Linked DNA regions of Homo sapiens. The protein of the gene in region 3 interacts with the protein of the main gene of each other region in a pairwise test. Each region holds a gene or a part of one and is shown on either strand. Other genes may lie near its edges.

Evidence for each region.
Region 1: the proteins of RBM5 (region 3) and KIF19 interact in a two-hybrid assay, tested with the Homo sapiens proteins (one large-scale study listed by BioGRID).
Region 2: the proteins of RBM5 (region 3) and DCX interact in a two-hybrid assay, tested with the Homo sapiens proteins (one large-scale study listed by BioGRID).

What each region holds. Positions count from the first base shown.
Region 1 is NC_000017.11:74,324,849-74,329,067, reverse strand, and holds the start of KIF19 (kinesin-like protein KIF19), read right to left. Parts: upstream 2,843-4,219; 5' UTR 2,719-2,842; coding exon 2,680-2,718; intron 644-2,679; coding exon 563-643; intron 1-562. UniProt on the Homo sapiens protein: Plus end-directed microtubule-dependent motor protein that regulates the length of motile cilia by mediating depolymerization of microtubules at ciliary tips.
Region 2 is NC_000023.11:111,325,129-111,328,776, forward strand, and holds part of DCX (neuronal migration protein doublecortin), read right to left. Parts: intron 1-3,648. UniProt on the Homo sapiens protein: Microtubule-associated protein required for initial steps of neuronal dispersion and cortex lamination during cerebral cortex development. May act by competing with the putative neuronal protein kinase DCLK1 in binding to a target protein.
Region 3 is NC_000003.12:50,095,325-50,098,972, reverse strand, and holds part of RBM5 (RNA-binding protein 5), read right to left. Parts: intron 1-3,648. UniProt on the Homo sapiens protein: Component of the spliceosome A complex. Binds to ssRNA containing the consensus sequence 5'-AGGUAA-3'. Regulates alternative splicing of a number of mRNAs.

The DNA.
Region 1 (4,219 bases), on a different chromosome or scaffold from region 3:
TTCTTTGATGAATGCCTCATCTCTTCACACTAGACTTAAGGTAATGGAGAGAGGACAGGGCCTTTTCTGTTCACCACAGTTTCCCAGTTTCTAGAACAGTACCCAGCATGCTGCTGGTACTTGATACACACTTATTGCCTCGTGTGCCCTGCCTTCCTCATCCTGGTGACATGAGGACCAAGATTGCAAACAGAGAGCGAGGATTTTGCCACACGTTACACCCTAGAGGCGAGCTTTAGCTCTCAACCATATATATATGTGCTCTGTGGGCAGCAGGCATATTAGGGTGGGAAAGTCAAGCAATGAGCATGTGAAAGGTAAAGGATCAGGGCCCACCCAGGCTAGGGAAGCTCCCAGTTGTCCTTGGATCAATCTAGGAAGGCTTCCTGGAAGAAGAGCCCCCAGCTTCCTTGGTGATGTCATCAACAGCACAGCCAAGAGTTCAGTGAGTAGAGGAAGGAGGGTGCTGCAAGCCACAGGGGCCCTTTCTGCCCTCACCAGGTGAGCTGAGCCATCTGAGCAGACCTCTGCCCTGCAGCTCCTGCTGCAGAGCCCTGCATACCTGCTCATCCACTTTATGGGCGATGAGGGTAGCTCCTTCCTCCAGCTCTGCCACGCTGATGGGCCGGACCCGAAGCGCCACCTGGGAGGGAAAACCAAGCCCCTGGGATTAGAGGGAGAGGACCATGCTGGGCCTCAGAGAGACCTCAAGCAAGCCCCTGGCTTCTCTAGCATTCAGCCATCTCAGGCCTCCCTTGTCCTAAGTAAAACTCTACCTAGGTCAGAGGGCAGCAGGTCCACAGAGTGTTGGACTGTGTCTGAGTTGATGAGTCTCCCCAGGAGCCCTGGCCTCCGGGAGAGCCCCAGGGGAGAGAGCTGTCTGCTCCTCCAGCCTGCCTCAGCCTCACGCCCAAATAAAACACTCGCAGCTCCCCTGGGCTTGAACTTGGGGCCCTGGCACTGGAGCAGCCTCTCTGTGTTTCCGCGAATGACGTGCTGCAGAGGAAGGTGCAGGCACGGCTCTGGGATGAGGCCTGGTAGGTGGGATGGAGCAGGGAATGTCCCCCATCATCCCAACAGCCTGTGACCACATTCCTACACCGAGGAGAGTGTCACCTAGAGCGCCCACCCCCATCTGCCTGTCCTCCAGCCAGTGTGAAATGGGTCTCATCCTGTGCGTGGATCTCCCTAAAGAACAGGGTGGAGTGGGGAGCACGTCTTGTGCTGATCAAAGGGCAACAGCTGCTGGGTGTGGGGATAGAATGAACGGCCCTCTGGCCGAGTGAAGACTCCTTCAGGCCTGGCGTGGTGGCTCACGCCTGTAATCCCAGCACTTTAGGAGGCCGAGGTGGGCGGATCCTGAGGTCAGGAGTTCGAGACCAGCCTGGCCAACACGGCGAAACACCGTCTCTACTAAAAATACAAAAATTAGCTGGGCGTGGTGGTGCATGCCTGTTATCCCAGCTACTCGGGAGGCTGAAGCAGGAGAATCGCTTGAACTTGAGGGGCAGTGAGCTGAGATCGCACCACTTCACTCCAGCCTGGGTGAGAAAGTGAAACTCCGTCTCAAAAAAGAAAAACAAAACAAAACAAAACAAAAGGCACTTTCAGAGGGAACTACACTACCTGACGGGTCACCTTTAGTGGCATCTTCAGCCAAATTCCACTGGCGGGAGGGGAGGACCCTTCATCCCTGCTCCCCGGGGCACACAATACATGCCAAGGCCAGTGATTTTCAAAGAGACACATTCTAAAAAGCCAGAGAGGATGTCCTAGAGCCCAGGGCTTGCTTGGGGGCTGGAGCTGAGGCTCCTTTCAGAGAAGCAAGCCCACCCTTGAGAGGTAGGGGACTCTGGGAGCAACATTATCCTCCAGTTACCTTACTGCCCACCTTCTGGTGATGAGGGCCCTTCCCCAGACCTCAAAAATTAGGGGATGAGGAAGGGGCTTGCTGAGAGAGACACCCACCCACCCACAGCCTAGTGGTGGCCTCGAGGTCACTGAGTCATCTCCCTTGTTGCTCTGGCCCAGGCACCACTGATGATCAGGAATTCCACCTTCCCCTCCACAGCCCCCACTCTCACCTCCCCATCTGTCCCAGGCCCCAGGGCTCTGTGGGGCCATGGTAGCTGCATCTAGCACTTCTCTGAACTACTTCGAATCCGGACTTGGGCAGCATCCGTGTTGCAGCCCAAGAACCAGGCACTCCGGGCCCCATCCTGACACCAGGGGCCCTTGTCTTCCTACTGGTGACCCCCACATCCCTTTAAACTCCTGACCTCACCAGGGCTGGAGCAGCCTCTGATTAACTGGGAAACCGCCACCCTCCTTCTGGGGGCAGTTAGGTCAAGCCCTCCCTGCCCCTGGCGTTTCTGGATGAGAGAGCCGAGATTCATCTGCGCACGCTTTGGGGGCGGGATCTCCCAATGGGAGGGTGGAAAGGTGGGGGTGGGGTTGAAGTTGGGGTAATTTTCAGGCTCAGGAAAGTCTAAAAAGGCCATGGTCCCTTCTTGACACCCATCCTGCAGGACTTGGGGAAAGTTGCTCTGAAGAGTCCCGGCCCTGGTCGTTGCCTGTCCTCTCAGTGGGGTGGCGGCGAGGGGACAGGACTCTGTCGCTGGAGGCCGACTGAAGTAGACCACGGAGCGGGGTGGGGAGGAGGGTCTAAAAGGGTCTCACCATGAGTTGCTGGTCCTTGGAGTCCCCGCTGTCCTTCATGATTGCAGCAGGTGGAGGGGCTCAGGCCGCGCCACCGGGCATGGCTCAGCCGCACCCCCACCGCCTCCGGGTCGCGTCCGCCAGCTGCTAGCTGCCCGCCGCCTCGCGCGCTGCCTGACAACCCGAAACCAACAACGCGCCAGCGGCTAAGGACGCCGACCCGAGGCGGGGCAGGGGGAGGGCCCGGACGGCGCCGCCCCGCCCCCGGCGCCCGCCCCTCCCCGCGCTGAGGGTGAGAGTTGGCCGCCTCCGCCGAGGAGGCCCCCGAGCCTGAACCGCTGCGCGACGATGTGTGCCCGGCTGTGCGGCCCTGCGGCCCTCGGTGCGTCCGTGCGTCCGCCTGGCGCCTCCGTGTCAGTTCGCTAACTCCTGCGCGCCCACCCGCGCCCCTCTGCTCGCGGCGCGACCCCGTGCCACTGCCCTTTAGGGAGCGCCCCAGCAGCCACGCTGCCCCTTGAAGCACACGCATCTGCCGCTGTCTCTGGGGTCTCCAGGGCGGCGGCTGGCAGCCTCGGGTTTCCGTGGGCGCCGCGTGCATCGCAGCAGGTGCCTGTGCTGTGAGTGTCTGCACCCACTGCCCACTGGCATGGGTGGCAAAAAGTTGTCCCTTTGCTCAGGCCGCCCAGCACCTCTGTTACCTGGGGTGTGCTACAGAAGAGCCTGACTCAGTGCGACCCACTAGCAAACAAGTCTCTACCCCTGAACCCAGAATCTAGGTCACGATGGCTGGGTCCGTGTGCCCTGCTGGCTCCCCGCCTGCTGCTGGAAGAGCCACAATACTGTGCAAGAAAGTCTAGGTCTGACGCTACCGCCTCCATTCTTGGCGACAATAACAACGGTTGCACTCCCAGGGAACACAGGGGAAAGGTTCCTGTCCTCAGGAGGCCCTGGGAAAACTTGGATTCTGGTCCCAGTTCCGCCTCCAACTCGGCCAGCCACCTGGAGCTGGTTTTTCCTGCCTCCCTGGGGCCTCAGTTTCCTGGGGGATGTTGGAGCCTCTCCCAATTCTGATGTCCATCCTCTGTGTCCTCTGCCCCCACCGAAGCTGAGCCCGGCAGCCCCAAGACTGGGAGAGGAAGCCACGATGGGTTTCACTTTCCAGGGAAGGGGCTGGGAAAGGAAGCACTCATGTCCCCAGGGCTGCCTCAGACTGCCTGGGGTCCCTCAGAGGCAGAGTGTGATGCCAGCCTGTGCCCTGGGACTGGCTTCCCCGGCTGCCCCTGAGGAGCCTGTGTTGGGAATCGTTATTAATAAACAGCAGCAAGAAGCAGCCGTCAGCCTTGGGTTTAATAAATAGATAAACCAAGTAAAACTTGGTGGAAACCAAACTCTCCTGCCCGGGATCCCAGGTTTTGTCCTGTTCCTTGGCCTAGGCTGTAGGCTGGACAGTTTGCAAATGGGCATACTGTGACAAGAATCGGGTCGGGTTTTTTGTTTTTGTTTCTGTTTTTTTATGACAGAGTTTCACTCTGTCACCCAGGCCGGAGTGCAGAAGCACAAT
Region 2 (3,648 bases), on a different chromosome or scaffold from region 3:
TAGCACTGAAAGGCACCTAATTACTTGTGGGACTTTGCTCAAAGCAGCACAAAGGAAATGACACAGACACCAACCCACCCCTTGCCTTTCCACCTCCCTAGCCTGGAGATGGGAGAAGGGGAAAAGAAGCCAAGAAGCAAGGACCATCCAACGTAGACCTTTGCATTCACCAGACAGCACATCCCACATACTAACTACTGTGTGTCAGTGGGACACTGCGAATAATGCTTGTTGGGAAGTCAGGAGAGCGATGTTCTGGCTCTTGGGTGCTAAGTAATGTGTGACATGGAAGATCCCAAGATCCTAAACTTTGTATCTTAGTTCCCCAATGAAAAAAAAAGATAATTATCAATTTCCAACTTAATTCATAGTGCAATTATGAGGAACAACTGAGGTAATAGATTTGGAAATATTTTGCAAAGTGCATAGCATCTAATTCACGTAAAAAGATTGTTATCATGAATCTCTCTTAGCTAGAGAAGAAAGGTATTCTTGTGCTGTTTAAAACAGTAGCCAATAGTCACATGGCTGTTGAACATTTGAAGTGCGGCTAGTCAGAACTGAGATACGTTGTAAGTGTAAAATACAACTCAATTTCAAAGAATGTGTAATTTATTACATTAATTATATGTTAAAATGATAATATCTTGAATGTATCATTATATGAAATATGTCAAAATTAATTTTGCCCATTTTTTAACTTTTTAAGATGTGGCTACTAGAAAATGTAAAATCACATACATGATTTACATTTATGGCTCACATTCTATTTCTATTGAGCAGAGCTGGTCTAGACAGTCACTTTCAGGAAGGTCAGAATGACCAAGTCCCTCTATCTTAGGCAACCCAAAGCAGCCTACTAGTTTCAGAAAAGAAGGACCCTGGGATACAGGTCTTTCATGAACCCTGCTGTTTTGTGTCCCTTGACCTCCCCTTCTAAAGGCTGTATATTTTGTTAGAGAAGGCTTTCTTTCTTATGAATTTGGGAACGGAAAAGATCGGACTTTCAGAAATAGGTGCACATGAGTTGGGGGAAGGGGAATGGAGAACATTGGATTGCTACAACAATGACTTACTGTTGAAGAATAGCAAACTAATTATCACATTACAATTCTCTCAGCCTACCAGGGTGGGTAATTAGCTTCCTTCGGGGGCTCCTTAAAAAAAAAGAAAGAAAGAGAAAGATTCCTTCCCAGCAACTAGCTATTTTGTCCTTTTAATTCAATTCAATTCAACTGGGGACAAAGTTACATAAAGGGAAAATTAACACATTAATGGCTGAAATGGAAACAGAGAGAGACATGTCTTTCTTTAGTTCTGAAGCCAGGCTTACCTTCGCTCATCAAAATGGCAAGTCCGGGGTTAATCAAAGTGTGGCACTGCATAAGCTTTTTTCAAATATCCCATAGGAGCCTCCTGGGCTCAGATTTTATCTTTTTTACCACAGTTCCATGGCCTGATTTAAAGACAGACATAGCTAATATGACTTGGATTCTAAGAGTCCATCAGTTCTGCCCGGTGAAAATGAGCTCCTTACAGAAATATTATATAGACAACAAAATCCTTACTTAACTTGAGTTTAGGGCTTAGCAACAGACATTCCATTTGGGGCAAACTCAATATTGGCAGAAGTGAGGATTGAACTTGAAGGAAATAAAGTAGAAGGATTTGATTTATTCATGGGGCAGAACAGGAAAGGGACAACTTAAGGTCTAAAGACTAAGGAATAAAGAATCAAATTATAGCACAAATTACAGACCAAATAGCATCAATTTACTAAACCTCAAGTCAGAATGAACCTAGCTATTAACTGAACCATGAATTTGACCATATAGATATAGATATAGATATCTAGCAAACTTGTTCAAACCAGAATCAAACCTGTATATTTTCCAATGAAGTAGAACATCAAAACATTCCTTAAACTGAACCTGAACCCAGCCAATGTTTCATTTGGTTAGAATTCCTGCTAAAGAGGAGCACTTTTGGTCTTTCTTTTGTCTTCAAAGGAAGACAATCTTCCATTGGTCTATCTTCCATAGACTTGGATTCTAAGAGTCTTTTGTTACTCAGGTTGAAAGAAGTTTTATAAATCTGTTCACAAGTTCCACATCCAAGACTGACTAACACAGGATGGAAACAGGGTGGTACTACCATGTCCTAGAAATGAACAAAGCCTGTTTGCCCCACCTAACCTATTATCATTTGGTTAAGTGTATTTTAACCTCTACATGTCCCTGGCTAACAGCTAAAAAAAATTGACATTTTATGAAACAATTGTTACTTTTTAAATCTCAAATGTCTGTAAGGAGAAATTTATGCCATATGAAAAGTATGCACTGTCTATAGCTTATCATTCTGGTTATCCGCTTTTGTTTCTGTGGGAGCTATTTTACAACTCTGTAAATTGTAAATAACTGATAACAATGGAAAATTATCCTTATCTATAGAGATTCAAATTCTGAATTATCTAACGATGATATCGAATCTCAGAAAAGGCAAAAATCTTGCACAAATCACAAAGCTAGGAAGTGGCGTAGCTGGGACTTCTTAGAGAGTCATCTCCCTCTCCTCTTTCATATCTTACCAATCTCCTCGTCCCAGCTTGGAATGGTCCTGAGTGAGGTGGAAGTGGAGAGGGAAAATGGGTATAGCAAATCCAAACTTTAGCTAAGGTACTGTTTTGCCTGAGATCAGCTTTGCCCTTATGGAATGTTCACTGAATGGATGCCTTGGACTAGGCTTTAAACAAACTCCGATGAAATGGGCTTGGTTATGTTACAGCCCTTCAGGGTTGGAATCATGAGGAGGCTATAGACACATTATCTGAGATGAGCCCAAACATTCTGGCAATTGCCATAAAGATTGTCTAGACTAGGGTTTGACTTCATTTATGTTCATGAACATCAGAATATAAATGAATATTCCAATTCTTTAAACTGAGAACACCATGTTAGATTGGTGGTAGGAAACAGAGGTTATTTGTAATTCTGCTATCTGCCAAGCAAATTCCCCTCATACACCCAAATTGGTTACTCTGTTTATCGTGTGGGTTGGAATAAATCCTCATTTCTTTTTTTCTTTTTTTTTAGTGAAGGAGTTATGAAAAAGCAAGAGCAGATCTTGCCTGCCAAAGCCTGGGTTGGGATCTCTTATATTGTAACTCCCTTCAATTTGACAAATATTCATTGAGTTCTAATATATTCACGTTATATCTCTGATATTTTAGAGTCACTGAGGTGCATATTTTGTAGAAGGGAAATTCTGTAGGTGGCATTCTGGAGATCAATGATTTGACATAGATTTAAACTGTGTAGTTATAGGTAGTTGTGTTCATGTGTGCTGGGTAACCAATTGGATGCAGTCTGCAAAGAGGATCTATTTACTTCAAGCTGATACCACCTGAGAATTTCTAACTGATGGGTTATATGGTGGTTTAAAAACAGATCTACAAATTCTTCAACACTCTTTCCTTTAATAAATAGAGTCTGGTTCCTCTCTCTTTGAATGTAGGTTGGACTTAGTGACTGCTTCCAATGAATATAATAAAGGAGAAGTGACAGTGTTGGCTATGGAGACTAGATCACAAAAGGCAATACATCTTGTTCTTTATTCATTCTCTTGGATCACAAACTAAGGTAGGAGATC
Region 3 (3,648 bases):
GCAATTAATTTCTGTTATGATACACATCCTTGCTTGTGGTATGATGTCTCAAGCCTCCATCCTTTAGTCTAATCTCCCTGTCCTTTGTTCTGCAGGATAGTACAGTGGCTCAAGCCTATAATCCTAGCGCTTTGGGAAGATGAGGCAAGATGAGCGCTTGAGCACAGGAGTGTGAGACCAGCCTGGGGAACACAGTAAGACCCCATCTGTATACAAAAATTTTAAAAATTAGGCCTCGCATAGTGGCTCACGCCTGTAATTCCAGCACTTTGGGGGGCCAAGGCAGGTGGATCACGAGGTCAAGAGATGGAGACCATCCTGGCTAACACAGTGAAATCCCGTCTCTACTAAAAATACAAAAAATCAGCCAGACGTGGTGGCACGTGCCTGTAGTCCTAGCTACTTGGGAGGCTGAGGCAAGAGAATCGCTTGACCCCGGGAGGCGGAGGTTGCAGTGAGCCGAGATCGCGCCACTGCACTCCAGCCTGGGCAAGAGTGAGACTCCGTCTCAAAAAAAAATAATAAAATAAAATAAAAATTACCCAAGCATGATGGTATACACCTGTAGTCCTAGTTACCTGGGAGGCTGAGGTGGGAGGACTGTTTAAGCCCAGGAGTTCGAGGTTACAATGGGCTATTGCACCACTGCACTCCAGCCTGGGTGACAAAGTGCAACCCTATCTTTAAAAAAATAAAAAAATAAAAATAAGGACTCAGATGAGATTTAAAAGAGGCAGTGGATGCGTCACTGTGCCCTGAAGTACGCCTAATCAAGAATAGCCTTCCTGCTCTTTGAGGCCTACTCTCAAAATAAGGAAAAAAATCAACAGCCAAAAAATGAAGAGCCTGATGATAAACTTTTTTTTAAATTTTTTTGAGATGGAGTCTCACTCTGTTGCCCAGGCTGGAGAGCAATGGCATGATCTCGGCTCACTGCAACCTCCGCCTCCTGGGTTCAAGCAATTCTGCCTCAGCCTCAAGAGTAGCTGGGACTACAGGCGCATGTCGCCACACCCAGCTAATATTTTATATTTTAGTAGAGAGGGGTTTCACCATGTTGCCCAGGCTGGTCTCCATCTCTTGGGCTCAGGTAATCCACCCACCTTGGCCTCCCAAAGTGCTGGGATTACAGGCGTGAGCCACCGCACCAGGCCAGGTAAACATTTTTAATGGATCATACTTTTCTTACAGTTAAATTATTGGTAAAAATTTTCAAAGTTCATCACATTCTTAGGCTCCTAATAAATCAAACATTAATTGGGGCTAGAATAAAGTATTCTGGCTGGTAGGCTTGTTCCAATGTCAGACCAACTCCTTTTTCCAAAAGGCCACAAAAATATACTAGTCTCTTCATCAATAATATCAGGCATGAATACTACCATGAAAAAAAAAACAGGGTGAAATTTGTGGAAACAAGATTCTCACTGGCCTCTACTTTCCATAACTAGGTGCAACGGCTGCAAGACTACACACAGCCAATCCTCATTATCCTCAGGTATCACACCTGTGAATTCAACCACTCATTAAAATTTCTAACACTCAAATCAATACTTGTAGCAGTTTCTTTTTTTTTTTTTTTGAGACAGTCTTGCTCTGTCGCCCAGGCTGGAGTGCAATGGCACGATCTCGGCTCACTGCAAGCTCCGCCTCTCAGATTCATGCCATTCTCCTGCCTCAGCCTCCTGAGTAACTGGGACTACAGGCGCCCGCCACCACGGCTGGCTAATTTTTTTGTAGTTTTAGTAGAGACAGGGTTTCACCGTGCTAGCCAGGATGGTCTCGATCTCCTGACCTTGTGATCCGCCTGCCTCAGAATCCTAAAGTGCTGGGATTACAGGCGTGAGCCACCGCACCTGGCCAACCCTCAGTAATATTCTTTTAGGCTTAGCTAGACTTTTGAGAACTCTAGCCCCTAGCCACAATAGCACTTTGCCACTCATCCCTCTCCTGCCAAAAGCCTCTGACTCCAGCCAAATCAAGCCGATTGCTAGGCCTTATCTAGATTCAGTACCTTTCTATTCCCTGCTCATGTGATACCCCTCCGCCTGAAGGGCCCATCTACCACACCATTCCCTTAGTTTTCCACGCCTATAATCCTAGCACTTTGGGAGACCCAGGCGGGAGGATTGATTGAAGACAAGAGTTCAAGACCAGTCTAGGCAATAAAGAGAGACCTTGTCTCTACAAAAAAAAAAACAAACGATAAAAAAAAAAATTAGCTCGGAGTGGTGACACATGCCTGTAATCCCAGCTACTTGGGAGGCTGAGGCTGGTGGATTGCCTGAGCCCCAAAAGTTGGAGGCTGCTGTGAGCCACAATCACGCGATTGCACTCCAGCCTATGCGACAGAGTAAGGCCCTGTCTCACAAAAATAAAAATAGAAGATTCCTTACCCTCCACTAGTAACAATTTCCTTTAAATAACCTTCAAGAGCTCTTAGGCAGACCTCTTTCAATAGGACCTTTTCCGACATGACCCTCTTTTTGAGACAGGGTCTTGCTCTGTCGCTCAGGCTGGAGTGCAGTGGCGTGAACACAACTCACTGTACCCTTGACCTCCTAGGCTCAAGTGATCTTCCTGCCTCAGTCTCCCAAGTAACTGGGACCACAGACAAGCGCCATTAAGACTGGCTATTTTTTTTTTTTTTTGGAGAGATGCGTCTTACCATGTTGTCCAGGTTGGACTTGAACTCCTGGGCTCAAGCACTCTTTTCACCTTGGCCTCCCGAAGTGCTGGGATTACAGGCATGAGTTACCATACTCGGCCTCTGACCCCTTTCTATTCTGCATTGTCACCATTATCTGCTGACCTTAGCTACTCATCCATAAGCTTTTTTGAGGCAAGATCCATAGCTCTGTGTCACTGTAGCATCTAACATGTACAGTGTAGCAGATGTGCAGTGGATCACAAATAATGGAATGATTACCCACTATTAACTCTAATATCCTGTCTCACATTTGTCACATTCATTACTTCCAGGGTTTAGAAACCCAAAGCTACGGGAATCCAATGCTTATTTTGAGCTTTATCCAAAATTCAACTAAACATTAGTCAGAATATTACTTTGATTACTCCAAGAAAACAAATACTGGCACACTGCTGTTTTAAAACCTCACATTCATTTTTACCAAGAGCACTGGCTGAGTAACATACTGTGTTCAAGGGTTGGGGACACAGAGGTGACTAGTTCACACAGAGGCCTATTTTCAGAGATCTTGTGGTAGAGATGAGACATGTGTGTTGATGGCTACAGTAAAGGTGCTACACAAAAGTCATGAATACAGTGCCTTAGGAAGAGAATAACGAAGAAGAAGCTCTGCCCGATAGATCAGGCTTTACATACAGGCGTCTCCAAGCAGAAAAAGGCACAACAGTAGAGCAATGGACATGTCCAAAGTCCAGGATGTGGAAAGTAGGGTGTGGCTGGAAGGAAGGGTGAGGACCAGAGATGCTGCTGGAAATCAGGCAGTGCCAAGTACACTAAGACTCTAATTGGCCAGTCTGAATGAGCCGTCCTTTTTAACAAGCTTTTCTGAGGTTTCAAATGGGTAGTTCAATTTTCAACAAATAAAAGGGTGGCCAGATTATAAAGAAAATTAGGTATTTACCAATCATCCTCATCTAATAAGTAACTAATTCAATAAAAAT